Regions from separate parts of the Homo sapiens genome. Here region 2 is linked to region 1. A link means that fine-mapping ties the variant in region 1 to the expression of a gene that starts in the linked region. Tissue or cell type: whole blood. Region 1 holds a variant in brackets; the other region holds the start of a gene. All regions are shown on one strand. Distances are from middle to middle.

The links. PIP is the estimated chance that this variant, and not a neighbour inherited with it, causes the effect.
Region 2: it holds the start of AK2, and the variant in region 1 is fine-mapped to the expression of AK2 in whole blood (TOPMed, PIP 0.99).

Annotation. Positions count from the first base shown.
Region 1 is chr1:33,064,879-33,067,640 of GRCh38, forward strand. No RefSeq gene overlaps it. Among named protein-coding and RNA genes, the nearest start is that of AZIN2, 15 kb to the right of the region's middle. The variant T/C (reference allele first, on the strand shown) is at 1,487.
Region 2 is chr1:33,035,821-33,038,582 of GRCh38, forward strand. It overlaps AK2 (adenylate kinase 2), which reads right to left and starts at 1,063. Exons shown (of 6, transcript NM_001625.4): 1 at 916-1,063. The coding sequence starts at 1,008. RefSeq lists an enhancer at 882-1,041.

The sequences.
Region 1 (2,762 bases):
TAGCTTTAGAACTGTTTCAAACAGAAGAAGATAGCATTTCAGTTTCTGATGCCCCTGAAAGCTGTGTAATAGATTGTGAAGAAGAGGCAGGGATAGAATCCCGAAAAGGAATGGAAAGTTCACATTGTAAATATGTAGCAGAGCCGGTAATGGCTCGGTCAACACAAAATGTTGACTATAATCAATTACAGGAGGTGATATATACTGAAACGTTAAAATTAGAAGAAAAAGGAACCTTAGATGTAGACCTGTTAAAACAGGGAAGGGTCTGAGTAACCATGGAAAATATGGTCACTCTATTCAGGGTGTTGGAAAAATACTGTCCTTGGTTTCCTGAAAAAGGAACCGTATATGTAAAAGTATGGGATCGTGTTGGTTCAACATTCTGGGAGCTGGTCCCAGCAGGGAATTATGTTCCCGTCACTGTTTGGGGTGATTAGGCCTTGGAACGTGCCATCCTAATACCTCCTCAACTTTCCTCTCCCACACGGCCTTCATTATCTGATCAGCCTCTTCCTTCGGCTACTCCTCCCCCACCTAACGATGCTGAAAATTCAATGTCTAACTCTGGTGACTTTGGCTTAAAGTTACCCCCTACTTATCTTCTTTTCATGAAGAACTGGTACTTGAAGCTCCCGCGGCCATGACTCACACAGCCCAGGACCATAGATATGCTAATTCTTGTCTCTTCAAATGGCTCCAGGACCAAACTACAATTTACCTATAATTCTCCAGGCCCTCCCCCATCCACTACAGCCCCTCACCCTCCTGTCGTTTCGGTTCCTCAACCGGTCTGTGTCGATATGCACTGCTCAATCTTACTTTTTTTAAAAGAATTTAAGGATGCTTGTACTCAGTCAGTATGGTCCTACTTCTCCTTATGTTAAAATGGTATTACAAACTTTTTGTATGGAGGTCACTTTACTTCCTTTAGACTTGGACCTTTTGGCAAAAAGCTGTTCTAACCCCATCTCAGCCTGGTGGGCAGAGGAGGCCCATGTTCAGGCTCAGCTAAATCAGACTAATGGCATTCTAACTACTCAGGCTCAGCTCACAGGCTCCAATAGTTTCTCTGATACTTAAGCCCAAGTAGGCTTTGATGCTCCTACCACAAAACAAGTAACAAAGGTGTGTATGAGAGCTTGGGATAAATTACGTGCCCCAGGCCAAGCTCCTGTTTCTTTTACTACTGTTAAACAGGCTCAATTGCTTTTACTACCTAATATCGTTTTAAACAAAGGAGATAAGACACGTGGCTCTGGGATAGACTCTGGTGGTAAAAAGGCTGCTTATTGGATTAATACAATTTCTAAACAACGGCCCACCTTCACCATACACATTCAAGGAAAAAAGTTTTGAGGGCCTAGTAGATACTGAGGCTAAAATTAATATTCCATATAACTCTTATAGTGTTCCCGGTCGGCATATGATGAAAAACATGGGTTTGTTCCTGGGCTAGGTCTCGGTCCGAAGCATGAAGGGATTA[T/C]TAAACCCCTCCCAATTACTATAAAATAAGACAGTAATGGTTTAGATTATCCTTTTTAGTGGTGGCCACTGCCATGCCTCCTGATCCTATCCCTTTACAATGGAAATCTGACACACCTGTTTGGATTCAGCAGTGGCTGCTTTCTAAAGAAAATCTGGAGGCTTTAATTCAATTGGTTTCTGAACAGTTACAACTTGGAAATGTGGAACCTTCTCTTTCCCCCTGGAATTCTCCTATGTTTCTAGTAAAAAAGAAATCAGGCAAGTGGCGTATGGTAACCAATTTATGGGCCATTGACGCTGTAATTAAACCTATGGGAGCTGTCCAACCCAGCATGCCTGCCCCTGCTTTAATACCTAAAAATTGGTCTCTCATAGTTATTGGTCTTAAAGATTGTTTTTTCATATTGCTTTACATAAATCGGATTGTAAAAAATTTGCTTTTACTGTACCATCTATCAATAATCAGGAGCCTGCAGCTCATTATCAATGGAAAGTACTTCCTCAGGGAATGCTGAATAGCCCTACAATCTGCCAGCTTTATGTCGGACAAGTGCTTTCACTAGTTCGAGCCCAATTTCCCCAGGCCTATATTCTTCATTATATTGATGATATTTTAATTGCTACCCCAACTAATAAAGAATTAATTGACTGTTATCAAATTTTAAGCCGCTGTGTTACAGAGGCTGGATTACACATCACTCAGGATAAAATTCAACAGACCACTCCTGTTCAATATTTAGGAATGGTGGTCGATAAACAACGTATTCAACCTCAAAAAGTTCAAATTAAGAGAGTTTCTTTGAAAACTTTAAATGACTTCCAAAAACTTTTAGGTAACATTAATTATTTAAGACCTACAGACAGCTTATTTCTACCCCTTATGCCTCTGCTCAAAAGGCAGAGTTAATTGCTGTAATTACTGCCTTACAGGATTTCCCCAAACCTTTAAATATTGTCTCTTATTCTCCTTAACGTAGGAAAGAGAATATGCTTGTGTTTCACCAGGAGATCATCAAACAAAAACCACAAAGAAAAGACGTCTGTGTCACAGACTGCCCTCAGACGTAGTGAGATCTGTGCCGACTCCTCAGAAGCAGGCACACCAAATCACAATGGGTCTGATTCAATCCTCCCTGATGGCAATGGAGACCCATCTAACTAATCCCACTTCTAATTACCTCTCTTTTTCTCCTTACAAACCTAAAAATCTCACCATTTCTATTAGCCTGAAAATAACATCCCTCTGTTCTCTTCCTCCTTCAGCACTCAATCTC
Region 2 (2,762 bases), 29 kb before region 1:
GCCACCTGACCTTTCTGGGCCTGTTTTTTAACCTGTTGATTGATAAAGTTAAAATTTCAAGTTCCCTATAAACAACAACAAAATAAAAAAAGGAAAAAATAAATAAAAACCAAAGGGAAGGAAGATACAAACAAACAAAAATAATAAAAACAAAATAAAAAAAAATTCAAGTTCCTTTTCATCTAAAATCATTTGCGTCATCCCAAGCTGCTTAGCCTTCAGTAGCCTCAGGTCCTAACTCCAAGCCAGGTCCCATGAGCACTCCCAACCCTTATTGTGGACACTACTCAAAGGTTGCGACTCATGGGTCTCCAGGCTATAAACCAGTTCTACACATTCACCCCCAACTTTCAAACAGGGAGAGCCTTAGGTTTCCTCCCATCTCAATTCAACTGGCTCACACAGCACATGTCACCTCTCACTCTGCCCCACGTGTTGGAGATGCTTCTCCTCCCCTCCCCCTAAGTCATAAATCATTATCAAAATCTCCCGACCTCCAGTGCCTGGAATGTAACCCTGATTCTGGACAATTCACCTCCAACTCGCAGGTAACCTGGGCCATAAAGCTAATTGCCTCCATTCAGCCTGTAATCTAGATGCCTCGGCCCAGGGCTCACTCTACCCCTCAAACCTTTCCAGTCTCTAGACCCTTAGTGGAATTAATCAGCCCTCACATTCCCTAACCCAACACTTCAACACTGAATCCCTCGGGCACTCCAATCCTAACTCAGACTGCCCCGACCTCCAATTTGGACCCTCTCCGAAATGCCCCACCAGAACCGAGACCCCGGCCAGCGTTCCCCGCAGGCCTTAGTCCCCGGCCCGCTCCGGGCAGGTCCAGGGCTTCTAGATCTCCGGCCGCCTTGACCTTGGAGTTCAGCAGGCTCCGCCGCCAAGCCCAGTCCTGCCGCTCACCTGGGTCCCTTTACCGGCCCCGGGAGGCCCCAGCAGCACGGCCCGGATGCCTTTAGGATACTCGGGTTCTGCCGCTGGCACGCTGGGAGCCATGTCCGCCGAAGTCTCTCACTGCCACCAGTTCGCACGCCTCACAGGTCCAGTGCTTCCCAGGTCAACGCACGCACGCCACGCACGTCCCACTCGCCGCTCACACTGGCCCATAGCCGCGTCCGTCAGCCCGTTCCGCCCGCCCCTGAGCACGACGGACTCTTCACCTTACCAACTGCACGGCGATACTGAGGAACTTTGCTTTTGATTGGACAGAATTGGTGCGGGATAAGGAAGGGGCGGGCCAGCATGTACTAAGGGTGGCGGGTGTGCGGAGTGGGCGGGAAAACGCGAAGGAGGACAGGAGGTCAGGCCGGAAGGTATACTTCGGCATTTGACAGTTGACGACACCAGCAACAACATTGAAATCCTATTAAATTGCGCGTGGGAGTTTAAATGGGTAAAATCACTCTTAGAAGACAAATTAGTAATATGTTTCAAATACCCTTTGGTCCAGCAATTCCACTTCCACGAATTCAATGGATAAAATCAAGGATATGAGTAAAGATTCGTGTAACAAAGTTGTTAATTGCAACACTTAGCCCAAAAGCCCGAGAAAAACCATAAAATAAAGGCAATACTCCAAATGTCCAACAATAAGAGATTGGTTAAATAAATTGCAACCAATTTGTATCCTGGAATACCCCTGTTGTATAAGATAATTTAATCATGCGGGAAAATGTTAGCAAAGCGAGATACAAAATTGCAGTTACAACAAAATCCGAATTTTGGCCGGACGCGGTGGCTCACGCCTGTAATCCCCACACTTTGGGAGACCATGGCGAGCGGATTACCTGAGGTCAGAAGTTCGAGACCAGCCTGACCAACATGATGAAACCCCATCTCTACTGAAAATACAAAATTAGCTGGGAGTGGTGGCATATGCCTGTAATCCCAGCTACTTGGGAGGCTGAGGCAGGAGAACTGCTTGAACCCAGGAGGCGGAGGTTACAGTGAGCCAAGATTGAGCCATTACACTCCAGCCTGGGCAACAAGAGTGAAACTCCGTCCCACTCCCCCCCCAAAAAATCCCGATTTTGTTTATTACAAGTGTAGACCGCTGTGTAGTGTGATTAGAGGAGCACCTCTCCTTTGTATATTTTAATAGATTTTTTAAAGTTCTATGGTAAATTCTTAATAAGTTTAAAAACTTAAGTTTAAAACAAGTTTTACCTTTATATTAAGAAAAACGTTAACCTTTTAAAGTCAGGAAAAGATAGTTTTTCTCAAAAGAGATGACCCTCTTGGATAGGGAAATAATTTCTACAGCTTTTTGGTGTGTGAAAGTTTCATCCAGCTCCAAGGGCCTCTTTGGACCTTTAGTTAAGAGTGTGTAATGAAACGATTATGTTTCCCCACAGGCTCCTAACAACTCATTTTCTACATCTTGATGATGAATTTGCTATCCCTTCAGCTGTGGTCTCTTCTTTTTTTTTTTTTTTTTGAGACGTGGTCTCGCTCTGTTGCCCAGGCTGGAGTGCAGTGGCGCGATCTCGGCTCACTGCAAGCTCCACCTCCTGGGTTCACGCCATTCTCCTGCCTCAGCCTCCTGCGTAGCTGGGACTATAGGTGCCCACCACCACGCCTGGCTAATTTTTTTTATACTTTTAGTAGACACGGGATTTCACCGTGTTAGTCAGGATGGTCTTGATCTCCTGACCTCGTGATCCGCGCGCCTGGGCCTCCCAAAGTGCTGGGATTACAGGCGTGAGCCACTGTGCCCAGCCCAGCTGTGGTCTCTTCCTTACCACACAGAA